Regions from separate parts of the Homo sapiens genome. Here all the other regions are linked to region 3. The links come from fine-mapping of genetic effects on gene expression. A gene starts in region 3. Each other region holds a variant in brackets. All regions are shown on one strand. Distances are between the middles of the regions. Region 1 overlaps DOCK1 (dedicator of cytokinesis 1). Region 2 overlaps DOCK1 (dedicator of cytokinesis 1). Region 3 holds the start of INSYN2A (inhibitory synaptic factor 2A).

Evidence for each region. PIP is the estimated chance that this variant, and not a neighbour inherited with it, causes the effect.
Region 1: its variant is the best candidate, but not a certain one, in a credible set for the expression of INSYN2A in testis (GTEx, PIP 0.63).
Region 2: its variant is the best candidate, but not a certain one, in a credible set for the expression of INSYN2A in blood mononuclear cells (TOPMed, PIP 0.68).

The regions. Positions count from the first base shown.
Region 1 is chr10:127,352,705-127,360,470 of GRCh38, reverse strand. It overlaps DOCK1 (dedicator of cytokinesis 1), which reads right to left. Exons shown (of 52, transcript NM_001290223.2): 32 at 5,744-5,802. Among named protein-coding and RNA genes, the nearest start is that of INSYN2A, 160 kb to the right of the region's middle. The variant T/C (reference allele first, on the strand shown) is at 3,756.
Region 2 is chr10:127,172,637-127,180,402 of GRCh38, reverse strand. All of the region lies in intron 27 of DOCK1 (dedicator of cytokinesis 1), which reads right to left. INSYN2A (inhibitory synaptic factor 2A) reads left to right here. Exons shown (of 6, transcript NM_001039762.3): 3 at 3,264-3,526; 4 at 4,003-5,191. The coding sequence starts at 4,008. Among named protein-coding and RNA genes, the nearest start is that of INSYN2A, 20 kb to the left of the region's middle. The variant C/T (reference allele first, on the strand shown) is at 4,447.
Region 3 is chr10:127,192,557-127,200,322 of GRCh38, reverse strand. INSYN2A (inhibitory synaptic factor 2A) reads left to right here and starts at 3,732. Exons shown (of 6, transcript NM_001039762.3): 1 at 3,732-4,326; 2 at 7,593-7,718. All of the region lies in intron 27 of DOCK1 (dedicator of cytokinesis 1), which reads right to left.

The DNA.
Region 1 (7,766 bases), 160 kb before region 3:
TCGCTGACTTAGAAAGATGCTAGCGCAGGATCACCATCAGGAAATCTGGCGACTGGGCAGAGCAGCTGGCAGCTGGGCCTGATGTGGTGGCCAGCCCCTCCCCCTCCTGCTAGTTGTGGGTTGGCCGCCATTGTGCTCACCCCAGCCGGGGACCCCATATCCTGTGGGTGCGTGGCTGCGGTACTCCTGAGGATCAGGGTGAGCTCCTAAAGAGCTTGAAGTGAACCAGGCAAGTTCAGAGAGATGGGAGAGGGAGGAAACCACAGCAACTGCCAAGCTTCTTTCACTGCCTGGACACTGCACCTCTGGAATGAAGCTCCTGGAAGACTCCTTTCTAAAAATGGGGCTGCGAACCTTAGTTAAGGTGACATAATGAAACTCAGAGGCAGGTCCTATCAAAAAGGTGATCTTTTAAAAGCTGACCCTCTTGTCTTTCAGAAATCTTGATTTTGTTTTCATTTCACCCCACTGCAACTAAAACCATTTCATTTCCAACATATAACAGAAGAATGCCTGAGAAATTAAATGTTTGAATAAAATATGTGCAGTATTTTAACACCAGCAATGTATCCCGAATTAACCAATCTTATTAATATTTCTACACAATCAGGAAACCAAATTCTTTAGTTTTCTTTGCAACTCAGTGAATATACATTTCTGTAAAGAGAATCATTAAAGAAATGTGGCTACTATAACGATACTTAAGAGAATACGTAATCCTCATAATTAGACTGAATTACTTTTTATTGGGTGGACATACACACAAAATGTAATTAACATCTTATTTTCAACTTTTACTAAATAATTAATATTTTGACTAAGGCTATCATTGTGTGATTCTCACCACTTTCCCAAATGCTTAATGTTTCTGAAAGTCCTGTAACTGCTGCAAAGCATTCTCTTGAAAATGCTATTATATTCCATCTCTCAGGTGACACTTTCCTTGTATTATGCCTAAAAAATGTCAGAGCCAATGTTTCAGAAAACAGATGATGGTGACAGCGAGTTGTTCATCAACCACAATTTCAGCGTCATAAAGTTCTGTCTGTCACCAACAGGTTTTATTGTTCCAAGCTGGGAAAAACATAGAAAGCAGTCACAAGTGGTTGTAGAAGCAGGGATTGGAAAAAGAAGCTACCAAAACGACAGTAGCTTAACCTTTTATTATCACCCTCCTTATTAGTACAGAAGACACACTGGCCTGGAGCTGGTACTGGGTTCTATGGATAGTGACAGCCCTGGGCACTGACTCTTCGTAAACCAGTGGTCCCCAAGGTGAGCAGGAGTGGGTGGGGAATGTTCTCTGGTAGCCACCTTTTTTTTTTTTGACATTTGCATTATAGATTTCCCCTGGAGCATATCTTGCTCAAATTTAATGATGAACTCAGGTTTGGAACCAATGAGGACCAAGGTGACTCCTGCAGTGTAGACTTAAAGAAAAAGAGGACACACTTTTGAGCCAAAGGAAGGTGACGAGGAGAATATTTTACTTCCAGTCCTTGCCGGTCTCATAGCCCATCTAGAGTCTATTTTAGTTACAGAACGTGGAGCTCTTTCCCCTGGGAACAACATCTTGTTTTCTCACGAAGCCAAGGCCTCCCTAGTCAGAAGCCTCCCTGTGGGTGTTTAAATTATCTCTTTGCAATCACTGGTGTTCAAAAATCTGGGACATTAAACATAGACTTATCCCAGAAAAATCTCTGTATACACAAGAGCAGGCAGAGCAAAAGCTTCCACCACCTGGCCACACCCATTAGGCCACAATGTATACGGGTTTTAATGAAAAGCACACAATTTGCCCAGTCGCCAAAAAACACCCATGAAGGGAATCCCTGCATGAAAAATATCCCAAACCCAACGCGGTGGATAAAGATCTTGCTCCAAGCACATTCGTTCTGGCTGGCTGGGGTCTAGTGCTCGCTCCAGTGTGCTGGATGTAATAAACAAAATGTAAATTGAGGCGGCACAGGCAAGGAGATCAGGTGCTCCGGCAGGCTGCTGCACAGAGTGCGCTTTGATAAATAACTCAGGAGCTGGGTAAATAAGCACATTTTCCCCCCTTTTTTCTTTTGAGAGAGAGCCTGCTTTTGATTTCCCCTTTCAGACTCAAAATATGACAGGTTTGGGAGGGAAAGAAACACATCACTCTGTCCCATGGGGCAGTGCCATGTTTGCCCTTGCATTAAATTGAGCAAAACAGACCCCAGATCCTTGCTCTGAGGCTGGGCAAGGAGGAGGCAAGAGCTGAGATGCTCCTCTCTATGGGCCATGCATACTATTGGAAAGACTGAAGGAGGAGACTCATGGAGCATTCAGCTGAAGGTCTGCTCAAGTGACAGTTTATTAATTGTAAGCAGATAAATAGATCTGATTTCCATTTCTATTTTCTTGGCAGAGTCGGTGCTATCATCCTGCCAATATGTTCCCAAACCTGCACCCATTTACAAAAAGTAAAATTAAAATAAAAAAAAAAAAACTATGTAGAAAGTAGGTTGTATACATCCTGGGAAACTGAGATGTGCTGTCATAAATTTGGAGTGTGACAGCCTTGGCAAAGACACTCAGGCACCTGGCACCATGGCAGGAAGGAGGCCACCCCGTGGTGCTATCCTTAGCCATCCTGAGGGGCTGCTTGGGGAGGATCCTGTGGGCTGCAGGTGCTTTTAAGATCACCTCCCTCACTTTGAAAGATAACTTATTTTACCAGCAAGGAACCCAAGTCTGGTGGCTGACTGTTACTTCTTGTTGTTTCCAAGTCCCTGACCCTAATTGGCTTTGGTTTACTTTTGACCTCTTGGCCGCTTCTCAGGCCACAGTCAGTGTTCCTGGCTAAAAAGCTGCAAAACACACACCTCATGCATTAATCACCATATTCAAATCAGCCACTGATAGGAGGGAAGGGGGGAGCTTGCTCACTTCACTGCAACCTTTTCCAAATCAAAAGTCTCCTGTCGCTTGACTTGGCCTATCTGGAGCATGACAGATAACGTCAAGAGAACCAAGTGCTCTGTGTCAGACCCAAGTGTATCCTCAGAAGGCCAGGCCTGCCCAAGCACTTGGAGAGGGCACGCGGAGAAACTCACCCTTTCTGGGCCCGCCTTTCCTTCCTTCATTGTTATCATGGCACGTAGCACAAATTGAAATGGAGCCACTTTCAGTGGTGATCAATCTCAGGGACTACAGAGGTGACATTAACTATACTTGCAAACAAAAACAAAAACAATCCCAAATCAGAAAACTAGAAAGGCAGGAGCACCCATCAGTCAGGGTGACCTCTGGCCAGCTGTGGCTCGAGCTGAGTTTTAGAGGCTCCCTTGGTGCTAGGCAATGACCTTGGCACATGGAGAGCAGTGGAGGATCCTGGGGGTGCTCAGGGGCCAGGGTGAGTCAAATGGTGGCTGCAGTTGTGTACGGGGAGAAGGAAGCATTTCAGTATGTAATGACCCATCAGACCCTCCGCTAGGGTGGTGTCTCTAATTATCATAAATGATGTGAAATGTTACCGAGCCATTCCAGAATGAGAACCTTCATTTGAAAGTATATGTGCAAGTGTCCTCTTGGGGGAAATAGGCAATTCCCTGTCTATACTTTAGAGTTGAAATGGAACAACACAGAAGAAAATGGACTCACTCTTTTAGGAGGGGCCAGGGTAAAAGATGGCCTCAGAGAGAGCCTGTGTCCAGAGAAGAGGTCTGGGGTCTGCCCTGAGAGCCCAACTGTGGCAGGTGGAGCTCATATCACCTCCTTCATGAACG[T/C]TGGTGCCTATAAAAGTCCTGGACTCACTGAGTTCCAACAGAGAACAGCCCCCCTCCATGCCATTGCTGTGAAAGCCCTCCCCCGTCTCCTGCCTCTCTCTCTCTCTCATGGGACCACACTGGGTCCCTGCCTGGTGTGGGGCCTGCCGTCTGGCCTAACAGAGCAAATGACAGATGCATCTGTCAGAGCAGGATTTTAACAAAGAACACAGAGAGATCAATTGGAATGAATCACGGATGGTCCTCCTCCCTGTTCTAAAAGCCTTAGCACGTTATTACTGAGATCATCGTATATATATGTCATAGAATTATTGAGTTTTGGAATTGGAAGGCTCTTGAAAAATTCAGTCCAACCACTTTATCTAACGGCCCAGAAAGACTGAGCCATGTGAATCAGGCCTCACGGGGAGGCAGGAGTGGGAGAGGATGAAAACTTCAAGGTGGGACTTATCATCTCTCTTGACTCTGAGCCTAGAGCCCCTACCTTCCTCCCTGGGATGGCAGGAAGGCCAAGGACAGGATGGTGCCTGGTAGGTATCATGTTGCAGAGATCAGCAGGCCCTTTGACAGCTGAGACCCAGTACTCAGATTCTGGACATAGGAGCTACTGCAGCAAAATCATGTGCAGAGACCTAGCACAGAGCTTCCTCGAGGAGTCCTCCACTGACTCCAGGACTGACACGCAGAAAGGATGCAATGGTGCAGGTTCTCTTTGTACTGGGAGGGCACAGGCAGACAGGGCCACTCTGACCCGCTCTTCATCCCCACCCAGGAGCATCTGCTGTGGCTTTCCATTCCTGAGAACCTAACTGGGCCTCATGTCAAACCAAAGAATGGCAAGGAAGATGCAAAAGCAAACAGTGAGCTAGAAGTGAAGCGTGGCTCGCTGGGTTCTGCTTCTTTCTTGCCATGCTCTCCAGCCACTGCAGGGAGTCACAGCTGCTTGGGAAGTAAGCAGGCTGGGGTGCAGCTAAGTTGTCCCAACCCTGGTGCAACAAGTGAAACCCTAATGCTACGAGGCTAACAGAGTGATGCGGACAGACCCCTGCCTCCTTCTAGTAGGAAAAGATTCTCTGAGGTAGAGGGGAGAGTGGAGGGTTTCTTGCAACAGGCCAATGCAGGCTTCTCGTGTCCATTTGAAGGAAGGAAGCAGAGGCCTGGAGATCCTGGGGCAGAAAAGCAACTGATGCTTTGCTCAGGACTGAGGCAAGGCCACCAGCACCCCATGGCCTAGGACACCTCGGCACAAAGCAAGCCCGAGGGCTGACGGCAGGAGCCAGAGAGAGCTTCATCTCAACGAGGAGTGAGGCCAGATTCCTAGAGGGTAGTGTAAAGATGCTGGGAAGATACCAAGTTATTGTCAGTCATTGATTTCTTGAAGGGGCTTATCTATAAGAATTACATGTCACATTGGTTAAAATTTTAATAGAGAATTTATTCTTACTGTTCATGATAAAAGTAGTTGGAAAAAATTACTTAATTTACAAATAAACTCCTATTAATTTCATATACACACACAGACCCTTCACTGCTTTGAGTGCAGGAGCATGTTAGGCTGCCACCAGGTAGATCTGGTTTTGAGGAGGGGAATTAACCCTTTAGAAGGCAGAGTCTGTAAAACTGAATATGGTAAGTGATGGCAAATGTCACAGCAGGATGAGCTTCCTATTTGACGCAGAAGGAACTGAGGCAACTGAGGGAGGGAGGCAACACCAGGGAGGGAGGAGCTCCAAGCCACGTGTCCACACAACACAAGAGGGTGCTCTGTGGATTTTTCTTTTTGCCCCACCCGTGAGATTTTCTTTCCTTGCCTTTGGTCTTCTATCTCTTAATTCCTGAAAACAGTTACTACAAAGAGTAGCAACTGCTGTCCAAGGAACAGAAGCCATTAAGATCTTAAGACATCCCAACACTGATGAACACGGCCAGTGCCATGACCCACCAGGGATGCAAGATATTCACTATGCCCCCACATCCAGGCTACTCACCAAGGTTGTACCACATGTCTCTGATTTCAAAGCCAATCTGTCTCCTCATATCTCCGTACCTGGAAATCAGGGAAAAGAAAAACGCTGAATCACTCCGGAAGGCATTTGAAAATCGGACTGGAATTATTTTTAAGTGCAATTAAAGCCTTCTAGCACTGAGGCAAATAAAGAGAGTGTCAAAGCTTCAACTTCTCTTGCCACCAAAATGAATCAAAGGAGGAGGAATCTAGCTGGGGGAAATCTCACTTTCTCATCACTGAGGGTTACACAACATCTTCCCCCCGGTGGGAACGTGGAGGAACTTGTGGAGAGTCATGAAAGCATTTCCCTTTCTTCAATCTCTTGGCTCCTGGGCCCAAGGGGGAGCTTGGTTCCATGCATGTCGTTAGCGTCTAGGCACTGCAGACACCACATAACATCCTACTGCACACAACAGGTTGCTTTCCAAAGTTAAAATTAAATCCAGAGTCAGGGCAGACCTCTTCCAAAGTTCTTGCATTCCTCTATGTCATTTTAAATGTAAGGAAGGGCTTAACACCAAAAGATGCCAACAAATCTTCCACTGTTTTTGTTTATCAGGGAAAATAAATGCTAATTTTCCTCTCGATGGGTGCATAGAGGAGGTGTGTGTTTCATGAGTAAACAGAATTTGATGCTCCAGAAGATAAACCTTTATTAGTTTGTGAGCAATTTAACTTTTTCTTTTATTGCCTAAGGAAAAAGCTGATATTAAAAATAATAATTTGCAAAATTATCATACAGGATTACAGTTGAGCAGCTGTGTCATCGAGCCTGCTCTGCTCATCCTCGTGTCAGGAGATGTGAGAAGGAAAGCACTGATTACAGAAGAGCGCACTGTGGTTCTTGAGGCGAAGATCCTGGCCGGTAAATCAACAACCGCGGCCAGCTGCCACCTTATTAGAGAAGACTCTGGTGCCCTAAGCACCTGTCTGTCACTCACGGCATGAGTGGGCTACAGCCAAGAGTGATCATCTCAACCACAGAAGATCAATCTCACCTGGCAGCTCTGCTGTGGTGCGTGGGAGGCCATGCGCCTTGGCCCACAGTGCTGGTGAAGAAAAGGAACTGGAGCCTAGGCCACTCCCTACCAGGACACGCTAGCTCTAAGCGCAGCCCTAAACCAGGTGAGCACTGATGCAGGCAGACTCGGTTAAGGAGGGGGCATCTCAGCTGGGGAGACGGCCCAGCATTGAGGCCATGGTAGGAGAGGCCCGTCCATGGTTGGGGAAAGCACGCAGGCAGCAAAGCTACTGGACTTGGGTGGGTGGGAGAGAGGAAAGCGCCCTGCATAACTCACGCCCCCCAATTGCCCAGGAAACACACGACCTGAACACTGCTTGGAGGCTTGTAGTGCTGGCTCCCCCATTCCCATTTTGCTCCTGCACTAATGACAAAGGGATCCCAGCAGCTGCTGCGGCCAGGGCTGGGAAAGGATGCAGTTGGCTGCAGGGTGACCTGGCAGGCTGACGTCCTTGCAGCATTTCCCAGGGGTGGGACACACAGAAAGCAAAACTGTGGTGAAGCCCTGTTCTAATCTTTCCTCTGAGGTTGGTGAGGTTCTCGATGTGCAGGTGGGTGAGTCCCCTTCCAGCCAAGCAGGGGTTGGACAAGCCCAGGAAAGTGGCATCAGAAAGAGGTGGCCCCCCTGAACACAAACACCCCCTGCGCCCATGTCCCCCAGCAGAGGTGAAATGCTCACAGTGGGATCGGCCTAGCATGTACTGACCCACTCAAGCTCTGCACATGCTTCTCACATCCCAGCTACACAGAGTTCTTCTCATTCTGGGATGATTCCCTCAAAATAGGAAGGCCCAGGCCAGGTGCGGTGGCTCACGTCTGTAATCCCAGCACTTTGGGAGGCCGAGGCAGGTGGATCACCTGAGGTCAGGAAGTCAAGACCAGCCTGGCCAACATGGTGAAACCCCGTCTCCACTAAAAATACAAAAATTAGCTGGGCGTGGTGGCACATGTCTGTAATCCCAGCTACTTGGGAGTCTGAGGC
Region 2 (7,766 bases), 20 kb after region 3:
TTATGAACTCCTGCTGCTTTAGAGCCAAGAGATCAGCTCCCCAAACCAGAGTCCATGGTTCTCTAGGGTGACCCAGCCAAGGCAAGCCATCATGAAGAATCCTATTGCAGCTTCATGCTCAGTCCAGAATTCAAGGCAACATTCACTCAGTGCTCCAACACCCACTGTGTTACCGGAACTACCTGGATGTCCTTGCCTAACCAGCACCCAGATACACTGTGGGAACAAGACAAGGGCATTGCTCAGATGAGTTTCAGTTGTTTGATGTTTTCAAGTTTATCATGGATCACTTCAAGTTACAGAGTTCCTTGAGCAGGGGTAGTGGGTTAGGGCATGTGATTCAAACGGATTCAGCTGTTTCAATGGGTGTGGCCCACTAGCCTCCTCACTCTGAGCAAGTTGCAAAAAATCCCAAAATCGTGTGCCTCGGTTTCTCAATCTGCAGTATGAGGGTATCAATAGTGGCTGCCTTGTAAGGATATGATGAGGATCAAATCTAGAAAACACAACTGCTATGCATAGGGGAATGGTGACATTTGATTAGCACATAGGAGCACTTAACTGCATGCTTACTGAATGTTAATGCTACACTGTAACGTATGTACATTCACTTGCTGAATAAATGCATGAAGGAATGATGAATGAAATAGTGTGGGAGAAGGTTCCACTTGTCTTAGGGAAAGTCCTCTGTAGAATGCCCCATTTCCTTTCATAACAAAATCATTTTCTTAATGGTAATCACTGTAAGCCTTACCCTCCACCCCCAATAAAGAGCAAATGAACACCCCGAAAAGATGTGTCCACCTTAGTAATTCTTAATGTCCAGAAATTCAATTTTAAAGCTTTAGAAAATGTCATCCAGCCGTCAGAAAGAACTCATAACCTCATTTGAAGCCAAAATAAACCAGCCACAAAAATTCCTTGGTGTTTTCCCTATCAGAGAATAAGAACTCAATTACTATTACTGTTTTTTAAGTCAGCAATAACAAACTAAAGTGATTAAAAATCCTAAGTATTACCATCATTTTTTTACTAACAACGAAATGATTTTTATGTACCAGCAACCCTCTATAAAACAGAGAAGAGCTTAGAATTTTTTATTATTATTTGGCCACCAGCAATTAATTCTTCTGATTTGTTGTATTAGTTTGATGGTTGCGTCCAAGACCTAGAATATTTCTTACCCCAGCCAACTGATGTAAGAAAATTATTTCAGTGCAGTCCCTAGCAAATGGTGATGATGAATAGCATGGCAGGACAAACTTATTCAGACACACATTTTTCAGAAGTAGCAGGGAAAAGGCTGATAAATTACTAGTAAATTGCTTTTTGTAAAAATGCTCTCTCTTTCAAATTTTCCCTAGTATGAAGGTCTTCTGCAGAATGATGGCACAATACATTCTGACATACCTGGACAACAAAGGCAGTTAAAGAATGAATAGGAGATCAGAGTGAAGGTTAAGATTTAATTTTCTTATTCCACCCCCACTGCTACCCATACTGTCCCCCACACCAAGCTGTCTTGTGTGCATCTGTTTAACCTGCTGGGATAAGAATCTCTAAAAGCCATCGATGCTTTCTCCTGAGCAGGCACGCCTTGTCCCTCCTTCCACCTATCATCTAGCCATCCCAAACGGGGCCAAGATATTGGTGCATCTCCAGTCTGTTTCTTGCCTTTTCTCTCCTCTCTAAAACTGCCCAGTTTTTCAAGTTTCAAATTGCAGCAATCTCCAAATACCCCCAGCACCTAGTAAAGCACCAAGGACTTCCTTTGCTGTCTACGCAAGCCTCACCTTTCAGGACACACTATAGGATAATCGAACAAGAGCCCGAGGCATCCAGAGGTGCAAGGGCTAATGCAGTGGTTCTCTGCCAGGCAAGACTCTGCTCCCAGGCTCATCTGGTAATGGCTGGAGACATTTCTAGTTGTCACACTGGGAGGGAGCGGTGCTACTTCTTCAGTGGGGAGAAGCCAGGGACTGCTGACCACCCTGCACCGCACAGCAAAGCCCCTCCAACAGCAAATGATCCATCCTGAAATACCAGTAGTGCCAGGATTTAGAAACTCTGGTCCCACCTAAATCAAATGCTGCAGAGATTGTTTTTTGTTGTTCTTACACATGATTACCTGTTAGTTGTTCATAGCATAATGTATGAAGAATTTGATTCCTTCACTCTTTCATCCAGTGAACAGCAGTGGAGGCCAGCAAGGTGACAAGACCAGGCTGGCCTGAGACATAGAGGTCATTTTAATAGAGGGCTAGTCATGTCACTTACTTTTAGATGGTGGCTGTGAAGTTGTCTCTTCTTCCCCCTTATGGAACCACCGTGCACCTCGGCCTGTCATGCTAACTCAGTAAGGGCTAAGGATGTGGGGAGGGGTCATGCCTCTGTCTGTTGGACAGCTGGGTCTATGAGAACAGCATGGATTCAGCGGTCCACTAAAGTAGGGTCCTGCTCCTGCCTGCGCTGCTTATTTCCTGTGTGACACCGAAAAATGACGCAACATCTCTGAACCCTAGTATCCTCCTTGAAATGGGAAGTGTAGCCTTGACCTTCAGGAACATTTGTAAGCAAGGCATTCTGTATGTGAACGAGCAGAGCATCTGGCACTCGAACCACCTCACTCCAGAAGCAGTGGCCATGCTGCGCATGTCATAGTTCTTGTGGCATTTTCCAATGAGTGCTGCCACAGGTCTCTGGGCTGGTTTTTCAGACACCCCCAGGACAGGGCACAAGGTCGGCAGCTGGGCTGGGGGCAATGTGGACGAAGTCTGTTTCTGTGCAGCTCTCACGGGCCCATGTCCATGACCTTGCCTCTCTGGGCACTCAGCTCCAGCCACTCGGGCCCCGTACACCCTCAGTGCCTTCCGTTTGACTGTTTTCTTCTCAAACACAAGGGGGGAAAAGGCGAAGCCTCACTCACAAACAACACACTTAACTCTATTTTCTTGCTTTAAGCGCAGCCATCAAATAAGTTCTTCCATGTGCAATAAACAGCTGTGAATCCGCCTAATAAAGTGAAGGCATTTTACCCCACTGGTATTCCCCGAGAGGAGTCATTGGCCACCTGCATCTTTTTAGCTGCATTTAATAATTCAGCCCAGGATGAATTTGCATGATTAACATAAAGCCTCATAGTTTTATTTGCTTTCAGAATTTAAGTACTGAAACCACCACCATTGTTTTCATTTTCGGAGGTTGTGATCACAACACAAAACTTGATTCTAGAATGAGTAATTTCTTTTATTTTTTTTTTTAAGAATTATTTTCCAGTACCACTCTCCATGGAATAAAAGGAGTTGCAAACATGGCCTTTGTAGATGCAGGGAAACCCACGTTCCTTTTAGAGCTGATGTTAACCCATGAGAAGCGACCACCCCTCGACGACTTCTCCTTCACGGTTCCCACCCAGGAGCACGGCCAACTCTCCCCCGGAATCCATAACGGCTCACGCAAATAGATTTCTTTCCGTTCCTCCTCGGAGGGCTCTCCACATTTATCTGCTCGAGACGTGGCAGCTCCAGTAAGTCTTTAAAACAGCAGCTCTCCCAGATTCCAGCAATAGATTAATGACGTCATCCTCAAAAAATAGTCAAAACGCAAACCAAATAAGTAGCACTTGGTAAACCATCTGCCTAAGAAGGGGAGTCACGCGTGTGAAAAGATAATTTGCAAAGCAGAAGAGGCAGCATCATTGGGTTTCTTGATGAATGTAGTAAAACAGGTTTGTCTAATGGGGAAACATGCATTACTGTCAAAAGGAAAGCGAGTGTATCCCACCTGGAAAAGCAAGCAGGCTTTAATATCTGAGAAGCATTTCAAGCTGTGCTGCCAGCGACTCTCAGCCCGTGTGATTTTCCTTAACATAAAGGCCGACCTCACCTGCTTAAATATAATTAGGAAACAGGCAGTCGTCGTGGTGGCTAAAAGTTTGTGCGGCCGGTGCTTGAGTGTGTATTTCTGTCCCACTGACACCTCTGTTGCTGTTTCTGAATGCAGGAACCATGGTCAGTAAGGACACCGGCAAATGCATACTCACAACGTCGGAGAGTGAAGTGGAACCCGCCGCCTGCCTGGCCCTGGAGATGAAATACGCCCTGGACCCCAACCGGCAGATTAAAAAACGGAACAAAGCCCTGCAGGTGCGGTTTAAGGATATCTGCGAGGCACAGAATGAGCAGAGGGACACACAGCTGTCCTCGGGCCAGCTGGGGGAGAAGCGGGAGGCCAAGCCCGTGTCCTGCAGAGCAGCCTACCGCAAATACATGACAGTGCCCGCACGCAGGTCCATCCCCAACGTCACCAAGAGCACAGGCGTGCAGACCTCGCCCGACCTTAAGAAGTGTTACCAGACGTTCCCTCTGGACCGCAAAAAGGGGAACCTCAAAAGCCTCCCAGCTGCAGATCCCTTTAAAAGCCAAAACAATGGGTTTCTAACAGATG[C/T]GAAAGAGAAGAACGAGGCTGGACCCATGGAGGAGGCCCGGCCATGTGGCGCGGGGCGGGTGCACAAGACCACAGCCTTGGTTTTCCATTCCAACCAACACATGAACACAGTGGACCAGCCTTTGGGGGTCAACTGCACAGAGCCCTGTAAAAGCCCGGAGCCGCTCAGCTATGGAGAAGCTGCGCTCCAAAACTCCACTCGGCCTCCATCCGAAGAGCCCGATTACCAGCTGCTCGGGAGGGCCAAGCAGGACCGGGGGAGGCCAAACTCCGAGGAGCCCGCTCCACCTGCCCTCAGGAGGGTGTTTAAAACGGAGGTTGCCACCGTTTACGCACCTGCCCTCAGTGCCAGGGCCCCCGAGCCTGGTTTGTCAGACTCTGCAGCCGCCAGCCAGTGGTCACTCTGCCCGGCAGATGACGAGCGGAGGAGAGCCACACATCTCAACGGGCTCCAGGCGCCCTCGGAAACTGCCCTGGCCTGCTCACCCCCGATGCAGTGCCTGTCCCCCGAATGTAGTGAGCAGCCGTCGCAGACTCACACCCCGCCGGGGCTGGGGAACCAGCCTAGTCCCACAGCGGTTGCTGCAGGTGAAGAATGCCAACGAATCGTGCCTCATACGGAAGTGGTCGACCTCAAAGCACAACTTCAGATGATGGAGAACTTGATCAGTTCAAGCCAAGAAACCATCAAAGTGCTCTTGGGGGTCATTCAGGAGTTGGAAAAAGGAGAGGCCCATCGGGAAGGGTATGTATGTTCACCCATGTCTTAGGAAGCTATGCAGGCTGATCACCACAGAGTCCATCTGTAGCCCCAAACCCAAGTCTGTAATGAGACTAAAGCCAGCATTTCCGTAAACAGGTCATAGTCTAAGGGCGTGGCGAGCTCCAAGGGGTCGCAGATTATTTTATGATACTAGACGTCACTGCATCCTGCACGATACGCTTTCTGGTTAATGTTCATCTTTCTGGCCTTGAATTCAAACCATACCTATGCTTAGAATGAATTGATAGACCTTTCCTTTTATTCTGCTAGGGCTAAAGGTTTATGATATTGATAATGTATAACAACATATGCCAGTCCAAAATATCTATTCTAAATAAGAAGAGAATCAGGAAGAGAAGAGGCCACAGGCCTCTTAGGAATCGTATTAGGAAGAGAAAGGAAATTTCATGTGACATTTGGAAAAGTAAATGCTGACTTGCTTATAATAAATAATTGAAATAATATTGGTATTCAGGACTGTACAAGGCTTTACATCATAGACAGTGTGTTTTCCATTCTGTACCTGGAACCCAAAGAAGCAATGGGCATTGTGAGACCAGTCCTGACTGTATATGATTAGGAGACAGATGCCCTTCCCCACGGGCTGCCCTATGTGTCCAGTGGGGCTGCAGAAAGAATGATACTAACTTCACGGCCAATACTTTATTGCGTTGATAAGACCATCTTGCACTTCATGTTTTGAAGTTTAAACTGTGCAGCAGCATCTTTAAAAACAAATGACCTAAAGGTGGGGTTTTAGTTCTTGAGCTCCCCAGTGCGGAAGCCTCCTACAGGCCGGCATGTGCTCAGCTGATACAAAGCAGCCTGTTCTACTCTGGGTCTGGGGGTTATCGGACTTCGCCTGGATTGCCGAGACCTCTCTTGCCCATTGCCCCTTGAAAGTGTCTGTGTTCCTGCTAGCCTGTGTACTGGAGGTAACATCGGAGGCAGCGCCCTGTTGCCTCATGTGATGTGCACCCTTCACTCTGCGAGCCCTGAGCCCTGGGTTTAGCAAGCTAGAAGCCAGCCTGAAATAAGCCAAGTAATGTATTTCCAGGACAGAAAACCACCTGGGCACAAAGTTTCCTTAAGAGGATTGCTGTGGCTGAGTTAGACAGTTTGCTGACTGCAAAGAATGGGGAGGAAACACCTCCTGCCTTAAGGTGGAGGCTGAGGTGAAAGGCCCAGCTCCAGCAGTGGAGAGGCTGGGGCAGGTCCTGCCCTGGGCTCTGGCTGCTCCAGCTTGGTGCAGGAGGCCTGTCTACAGCTTGATGCTCTTAAGCAAAAAGAACTGCCAGCCAAATGTACAAAAATCTTAACAGTAGATTCATAGGTAATCTAACACCATATAACATTTCCAAAAGGCCTTGTTCAATCTTGGGTTTACATCTCCATTTTCATCCCATTTCCATCAGTACAGATCCAAAAGCAACACTCATCAGGCGTGGGGTGGGGGAGACCAGTGATTTACTGATCAGTAGTCCACATTCCTGCAAAAAAATTAAAAGGTCAAACATTGACCCAGTCACTGATGTTGATATAGTTGGTAGTGAATTAAACCAGACAGCAAAAGAGAAAGATGCCAACATCTTTGGTGAAATAAAGTTCACCAAATGGTGTAAAATGAAATATGTACACTAATGTGCATACTCACAGGAGTGTGTGCCCAAAGAAGAACCTGAGAGGGCTGAACACCCACGAACACAAGAAAGGAAAACCGTACGATATATGGGAGCGCCTTCTTACACTCCTCTTAGAACAAGTATGGAAGATTGCTTTAAATAAGATCCTCAGGGTTCTCTGAGATGCCATCCATCTAGCAGTGTGGTTCTCAGTTTACTAAGACATGTCTGGGTAGGAATCTGGCACTGAGGGCTTGGGCAAGGGCTGTATGTCTCTGTGCCTTCTTTCTTCACCTGTAAGTTGAGATCACTGTCTGTCCTGCAGACAGGGGATGGAATGACATGGGGTGACCTTCTAATGTGTTCAGCCTAGTGGCAGGTGTGTCTGAATGGGTAGATGTCCACTAGTGGCATGAGTGTTGATCTTGCTGGCCAGCAATGCTGGAGCAGGGGTCTGGGGAGGACTTAGTGGTCTTGTGGGCGTCCAATGTGATGAATGCATCCCCTATATGCCCGGCACACAGGCTGCCACACAAGACTGTCCCTGAAACTCTGGAGCTGCTCTATCCAATACAGTGGCCACTAGCTGCACGTGGCTATTGAAATTCAAACTCAATGACAATTGAAACTTCACAGTCACAGCAGTCACATTTCAAATGCTCGATAGCCACATACATAAGACAGTGCAGCTACGGAACATTTCCATCATCACGAAATGTCATTCACTCCGGTATCCCAGAACATGGCACAGTGCCTGGTTCTTAAGCATCTGAGGACTTGGGCACCTTAAATCAAGACAAAGGATGGTTTTACTTTAAAATCAATCCTAGTTCAGTTGCTGCCAGCACAAGCTCACGGTGGAAGGTAGAAAGGCAGGTCTCTGTTGTGTTCCTGGGAACATTCACTTCCTCTCTCTCAGAGCCCTCTGGACTCAG
Region 3 (7,766 bases):
ATGAGTATTGTACCTAGGCTGGACGCATTCCTCCTCTTACTTTTGGGAATGTCCCACTCTGTCTATGGAGTAGCTGTTCTTTCACTACTTTATTCTCTTAATAAACTTGTTTTCACTTTGCACAGTGGACTCGCCCTGTGTTCTTTCTTGTGTGAGATCCGGGAACCCTCTCTTGGGATCTGGATCGGGACCGCTTTTGTGTAACAAAGACATGGGAAAGAAAAATTCACGTCCATAGCGAGCTCTGTCACAGCGACATCGGACAGTTGGGAGGGCAGGCGTTTCATCGGCAGTCTCCTAAAGAAGGAAGTTCTGCTGTGTAGCTAAACTGGAAGGCTCCTCTTCTGCAGTTGCTAGTTTGGAGACACTTTTCTCTTCTCCTGCCTTGCACACTGGAGAGGATACAGGTTAATCACACTGACAGATACACTGGTTCACTGAGGGGTAAGGGTTATTGGGGAGCATGCATGTGGACATTGCAATGACACAGTGATGATGCTCAGACAAATGAGGTCACACTGAGACAGGAAGCATCTCCATGAATTTCTATATAGGTGGAAAACTGCATAAGCAACTAGTGCAGGAGACAGAATGATCCAGCACCAGTGAAGTTGCTGTGGTCCCGGGCAACGAGTATGCCTCAAAGGTAATCCCCATTCTGATATTTTCCACCATTGATAACTTTGTCGCATTCTTGGACTTCATCTAAAGGGAATCATGTCATAAACACTGGGCGTCTGGCTTCCTTTGTTCTGCACCTTTGTAGAAGCCCTCCATGCCAAAGCATGCATCAGCAGTTAGTGCTTTTGGGTTGCTGTCTAGTATTCCACTATACGAAGAACCAAGAAATCTTTATCTACTGTTGACTGGTATTTGGATTATTTCCCGTTTGGAACAGATATAGATAAACCTGTTATGAACATTCTTGAACATGTTTGACTTGTATATTCTTGACTTTTTAATGTGGAAATTGAGACCTCAAACTCACTATACCATAGGGGTGGAATTCCAGCAATTCTCTGTACAACCCCTGCACAATTCCAAGAAGAAGGCAAAAGAAGAGAGACGTGGATATTTTGCTTAGTTAGCCGTCTTGAACTTTCCCTTATTTTTATTCCTCTGCTTTTAGGAAATCCCACTTGAAAAGTAGCTATTTTCTCCTTTGCAAGTCTATCTTTTTCAACAAAAATCTTAAGCAAAATATAAAAAGCCAATACCAATTGATTCCTAAAATGAATCTATCAAGTTTCACTTTTTTTTTTTCCTGAGGAAGCCGAGCATATTGACTCATTCTAGACCCTAAAAATATGCCTACATCCCATCTATTAAAAAAAAATGCAAGAGGGATCTGTGGGCAGGAAGATGGCTGAAACTCCCTTCTCTCCAGCCAGCCCCCAGCATGATGCTTGCTTTAAAGCCTGGAGCATGATGACACACACCTCACCCATGTGGAATATCTCTCCAGAGCCAAAGGTAAGGTGAGGCAAGTTTTCACCAATATTTTGATTTGTGATGCTGAAGACATGCACTTAAGCACTACAATATGTAAATGGTTTCCTACTTCAAAAAAAAAAAAAAGAAGCGATGCCAATGATTTTAATAGACTTAGCAAAACAACTGTAAGTCTACTACACAATTGAACAACTCTAAGCAGTCCTGATGATGCTACAGAATTCCGTTATACTCTCCTCTTCATGTAAGTGGATTTTCTAACCTGCCAATTACGGCTTTCCATTTTCTTCCTGGAGTTATACATCATGCGAATCTCAGATAGCACTGTCCTTGGAGCTGTTTTCTTGCCAGTTCACAGTGCCACCTGTGGCTGAGCACTGCCTTGCTGGGCATGCATTTATGTTGACCTGTTTTCACTCTTGGTCCCGGAAAACTTCAGCCTTCTGATACTACCAGCCCAATGCCCAAGTTTCCTGGCAGCTTTATTTACAGTCACTTTAAAAGACGGAAGGCAGATTTCAATTTTATGGATTGCCAATAAAGTAAGATTTACAGAAGTTCCCCAGACCACTGGGAAAATTACTGGAGCCCACAGCTGCAACAGCACATCCCCAAGGGAACATGCTGGAGAGTGGCAACTTCTCCTATCTGGTTTTAAACGTCCCCAACTCCTATACATTCCCTTCCCAGGCCCCTTCCAGGCAGAAGAGGGGACTGCAGTTTCCATACTGCTCACACAAAATTAAGCATCTCTTTCCAGCCAGCTCCCAACAGCCTCCCTGGTAAGCTGGAAAATCAGCTTGGGGGATCTGAGTTAAGAAGAACAACAAGAAGAGTGAGGTGGGCAGAGTTTGGATCCACAGGCTCAGGACTCCCGTCCTGGGCATATCTGGATCCCCAAGGCTGGCAAAATTGTATACCAAAGGATGCTGCGGGGTAAAGAGGGAAATAGATGACATTTTAGATTTTTTTTTCTTCTGAAATGTCTGGACACACTGCCCAAAGCATCCACATACAAAGAAGGTATTTCGTATAAAGTCATTTATAAAAAACAGACACTCTATAAGGCAGTGATAGGCTCAGTTCAGCTCAGCGAACAAGGATGGAGCTATGGCTTGGTCACAGGCACAGAGCTGGTGCTAGGTGCAGAGACTCAGGGATGTATAGGCAAAGAGGTCTCACTGCCCACTGATGTGTCTGGAGAGGTGGGTGGGTGAAGGGACTTTCCATTTGTCCTCCCAATTTCCTCTCCGAAGCCTGTCCCTTCCCTGGGGTCCACTACTTCTCTGACCTTTCCTGAGAAACAGACTAATAAATGTGGCTACTTACATTTTACATTACATTCTAGGAGCAAATCCAGGGGGCCAGGAGCCCTGCACTCGGCTGGCTGCTTAGTCCCTGGCCCAGACCCCAGGGCCTGACAGGCATCAGAGGGGCCCCTGGGTCTGCTGCTCTGAGCTCAAAACACCCAATACTCTTTGGTGGGTGGGAAATTAAGGGCGGGGATAGCTCCGTGTGCATCCTAGGTCTTTTCCTCTCCCAAGAGAATTCTACTCTGCCACAAAGGAACTCAGCCTCTGCGCCCTGTGGCTTCTGCTGACGGGTGGTGTGTGCTCTGGATGGGGGGTAGGGTTCCTGGCTAGGAGTGGCAGTGGCGCCTGCTCTGGAGTGTCCCTAAATGTCAGCATGCAACATTACCAGGCAGGCCCTCCCACTTCAGTCCTCAGGCCACTCATAGGACCTCCTGTCCCCATGTAGAGAGGCTGACACCAGGTTGGAGCCAGCACTGAAAGGATCCCCGAACTCCTGCTTCTACAAGGCAGCATCCGCAGGTGAGCGGCCAGGCACCTACAAGACACGCACCCTTCAAGCCTGGCTTCCCAAAGCCCCGCCGGGCCAGGCTGGCTGGCACAGCAGACAGTCATGCAGCAGGGTCCCCAGCGACCCCCCATCCCTGAGAGAACACACGGAGTCCCCCGCCCGCCAGCTGCTCCGGAGGCGGCTCCAGGGTAGACTCAACAAGTTCCCGGGCCATGCAGCGCCGCCTGCAGCCCAGAAACCCGGAGGACGCGCTGTGGCGGAGCCCCGCGCGCAGGCGGCAGCCGGCGGCAGCCGGCGGCAGCTCCTTCCACCTCCTCCTCCTCTTCCTCCTCCTCCTCCAGCTCTGGCGGCGGCGGGAGGGGGCTCCTCCACTCCCTCCCTATCCCCCACCCCACGCACGCGGCCCGGCCCGGCCCGGCCCCGCGCCGCCCCCGCCCCACCTCCGCCCCGCGGGGCCCGGGGCTCCGCCCGCCTCGGTGCCAGCCGGGCGCACAGGCGGCAGGCGCGCGGCTTGGGGCGCCCTCGCCTCTGGCCGCCCGGCTCCGCGGAGTAGCTGGGACCTGGAGCAGCGGAAAGGACTTCCCTCCTGCTCCCTCCTCTGCCCCGCCCCCGCCTCCTGGCCCTGGCTCTGAGATCTCGCCGAAGACAATTGCAGTAAATGAGGACATCGGAGGAGCGCGAAGCCGGGTGGCTGTGGCTGGCTCCGCCGCGTCGCGAGCAAGCGAGCGCGCGGGCGTCCCCGGAGCTGGCCCAGCCGCTGCCTCCCCGCGCGCGTCGCTAAGCGGGGCCGGAGGGACGCGAGCGACGCGAGCTGCGGCGCGGGGGCCGGCCGGGCCAGCAGGGCCGGGCCGGCAGCGGTGGAGGGGGCGGGCAGCAGGCGCGCAGCGGGCCAAGTCCCCGGAGCCGAGGCTTCCTCCGCGTGAGCGCGGCGAGTCTGGCCGCGGATGCCCTGTCCGGAGTGCTCCGTGCCGCCCCAGGCTTGCCAGGGTCCGCAGCGAGACATGCCCGAGCCAGGCGCTGCATCGACCTCGACTTATCTGTAAGCAGCGGAAGGTAAGCGGAGCCCCGCGTGCCCTCCTCCCGCGCCCCCGCGCCCGTCGTACTTGGCCGCGGGCAGAGCACCGCTGGGACGGGCGCCGACCCCGATTCGGGCGCACACACTCGGCCCCAAACCGGCTTGGCCGGAAACTCGGCGGCTCCCGGGGCCGGGACACCCCGGTGCAGCCGGGAGCGGACCCGGTGCGGTCGCAGGTGGGGGGCAAGGTTATGCAACTGCATCTGGCGCGACCGGGTCGCTGAGGGGCGTCTGGCAACTTTGGCGACGTCAGGGAGGAGCGGGGCTGCGCCTCTGCGATGTGGGTTCCAGACAGACGCCACAGCTTCGTGAGCGCCCGACAGCCCTAGCCAGGCAAAACTGGGAGATCTGGGGGCGGCCGTCTCCCCGGAAGGTTTCGAGGCTTTTAAGTATTTTCCAAACTAAAGCGCCCTGGAAAGTACAAGTACGGCTGATTAACTTCGGGGGGGGGATGAGTTGGAACAGAGGGGCCCTGACGCCGGCCGTTGAGGAGAGGCGCGAGCAGCAGTGAAGGCAGATGCCCACGTGAAATGCTCGTCTCCTCCACTCGCTGGGGTTGGCACCTTCCCGGGGCTGCGGGTTGGGGTCGGCGCCGCGGGGCTTCCCGGTGCCTGGCAGCCCGAGTCAGACCGGGACAGGCGTGGGAAACCAACCAACGCTGCAGACCTAAGAGACTGCGAGCTGGCGGGCGAGGGCAGGAGGGAGGAGGGAGCCCGCGGGCAGCCCGGGGTCGGGGCAGCTCCTGGAGCCCAAAGTCAAGAGCGAGAGTCTGCATCTTGCTGGTTCATGCTCAGGGCTCCAGGCTGATGTCCCCACTGCTTGGATAAAGAGCCGCTCCCTGTGACCTCAGCATTCTACTACCCAAAAATATGCCACAGGGAGAGGGAGCCAGTGATAAAGAGATGCCAGGAGTGGGGGAGGAGAGGTGCCTCTGGAGTAAATAGGAGAGAAAATGGGTGCGTTTTGCTTATCTACAGCCCAGGGCTCCCGCCCGGACCCCTCTCCTGCTGTTGGTCTGTGCTGGGGAGCTGCACGCGCTCTGGGCCCCTGCGCCAGAAGCAGCGGTGAAGCGGTTTACTTTGACCTTGTCTGCTTAGGCGCTGAAATTCTGCGGAAGCATCCCGAGGTGAAACTGCAAGAGTGGGAATGAACTTTGGGGGAGCCCTGCCTTGGCTGGGAAGCCAAACGATCATTTCAGAAGACTACAGCTCAGGATAGCACAGGGTAGACGTCTGTGCACTTGAACGCTCCCCCCTCAACGAGGACTTGCTAGAGGGTTACCTTTCCATGCCTTATCTCAGTGGGGGGACTGTCAGAGTGACTGCGCTGGCTGGGTACTTGATGAAAAAATACCACTCACAAGACCCGGGCCATTCCCAGAGTAGTACATACATGAAAATGATATAACCCTTATTAAGCTTACGCTACAGCAAGTTACCGTCATTTCACTATGCAGAGGCGGAAAGTGCTGGTTTTTACTATTCCCCCACACTGTACTATTTCTTACATTCATATCCTGTTGAATGTTACTTTTGAAAGTTCATATTTATCTTTGCAATTTTTTTGCAAGAATGATTAGCAAACATGCACAAGGAGCTCAAAGAAAAAATGGAAGTCCTGCCATCTGCATGCCTCACCAGATATTAATCATTTACTATCCATGTTTACTACTTACATTAGATGGCACTGCTCCTCACGATGGTTTTATTAGAGGCGCATTTGGTTAAGGAAAAGAAAAAGTCTAGCACAGCTATCACTAATTGCATGATTTTGCATAAATTACATTAGCCATGGAGAGTTTTGTTTTCTTCACTAAATTCATCATTTTGTTTAAAAGACTAAACAATTCAGTTTAATTTCTTTAGCTAAATGAAAGACTTTTCCTTAAAGACAAGATGTCCTTGAAAAGCTACATATGTCTTTAAACTTATTACAGTTGCCACGACTTTGTATTTTATCATTGTGATTAAGACTTTGAGCTTTCATGTAAGTCAGGCCCTTTATCCTATTAAGAAACAGAATTACTGGTTAAGAAATAGGCTAACAAGGCAAAAGCTGGGAAGCTCCATGTCTGCACAATGAGATTTCTGCAAGCTCTATGGGAGGCTGGGTACTCTATTACTCTGTTTACTTCGGGGGCTTCTCTGTTTTGCCACAGTTGTTTTCCCCTGTGGCAGGAAAGGGAATTTTTGTGTTTTGTTTCTCCCTCTGTAGGGAAAAATTTTTAAATAAATCAATAAATAAGAGAAAGACTTGTACGTGAAAGGCATTCATCTACAAGGAAGACTCCTACACACTGAAATAAGCAGTCCAAAAATCAAAATGATTCTCAGAAATAACAACGGATCGCAGTGGAGTGGCAGGACAGACCCGTTCACGTAGACATTTGTATTCTCTTGTTTGCGCCCAGCCATGGCTATCTCATTTAGAGACAACTACTGAACTCTGGAATATGAGAAGCAGGTGACTTATGCTTCTCAGAGACTCATGATACAGAAATGATCACAGCTACCTCCCAAAGCAGCAGCTCTGTGGTCAGATATTTACGTAGGAGGGCAGTGACAGGTTCACCACGGATTTTAACGCTTGTGAAGGATGCTGTTCAACGCGTCCATAGCATCCAAGAAGCTCAGTTGGGAAGGCAGGCAAATTCTACATACTTGAGGCAAACCACCGTCATTCTGGGAGTGTGAGGTCATAAAAACTCCCCAGATAAAACCAGTGTCATCGTCATTTTCAACAGTCTTTCATAAATGTGAAGCACCACAACCCCTCCCCACCATGATTCCACTGGTTGGAGACCTACATTCCCCAACCAGAAATTAGCTGGCATGATTTATGAAGCAGATCCTTTTTTGTCTCACATATTTGATTTTAATATTTCATAACATTATGGGGTGACTTCAATATTTTAAAGCAAAATTTAATATGATTGATACTACATGACGACACTTTCATTACCATGAAATTCTCATACAAACATTGAGAGAAGTCTTTATTCCAATACTGGAGCTAACCTATGATATATATGTAGTGAAACTTCATGACTTTTAATCAGTTTATTTAAAATGTACATTGTTCTTATACATTAAGGACAGAATACAGACTTGCAGGAACCAAACTATAGGGACCCTGACAGGATTGCTGTAAACAAGTTGTTTGGACAATGTCTTGTGTTAAGCACTAAGCCATGAAAGGATAGGTTTGAACCTTTGGACCATGTGTGATAATGTGTCTGTTTCAGATCCTGAAGGCACTAACTAAGGTATCTCCAGGCAACCAAGGATCTTACCTCTCACATTGAGAAAAACCATAACTTCAGAGACATTTCCTGGCTCCAAATTCAAGTCCTTTCAGAGACCCCTCTACTGTAAGTCACAGGATATTCAGTGTGCATTTGAGTCGTACGTGCTTTAGA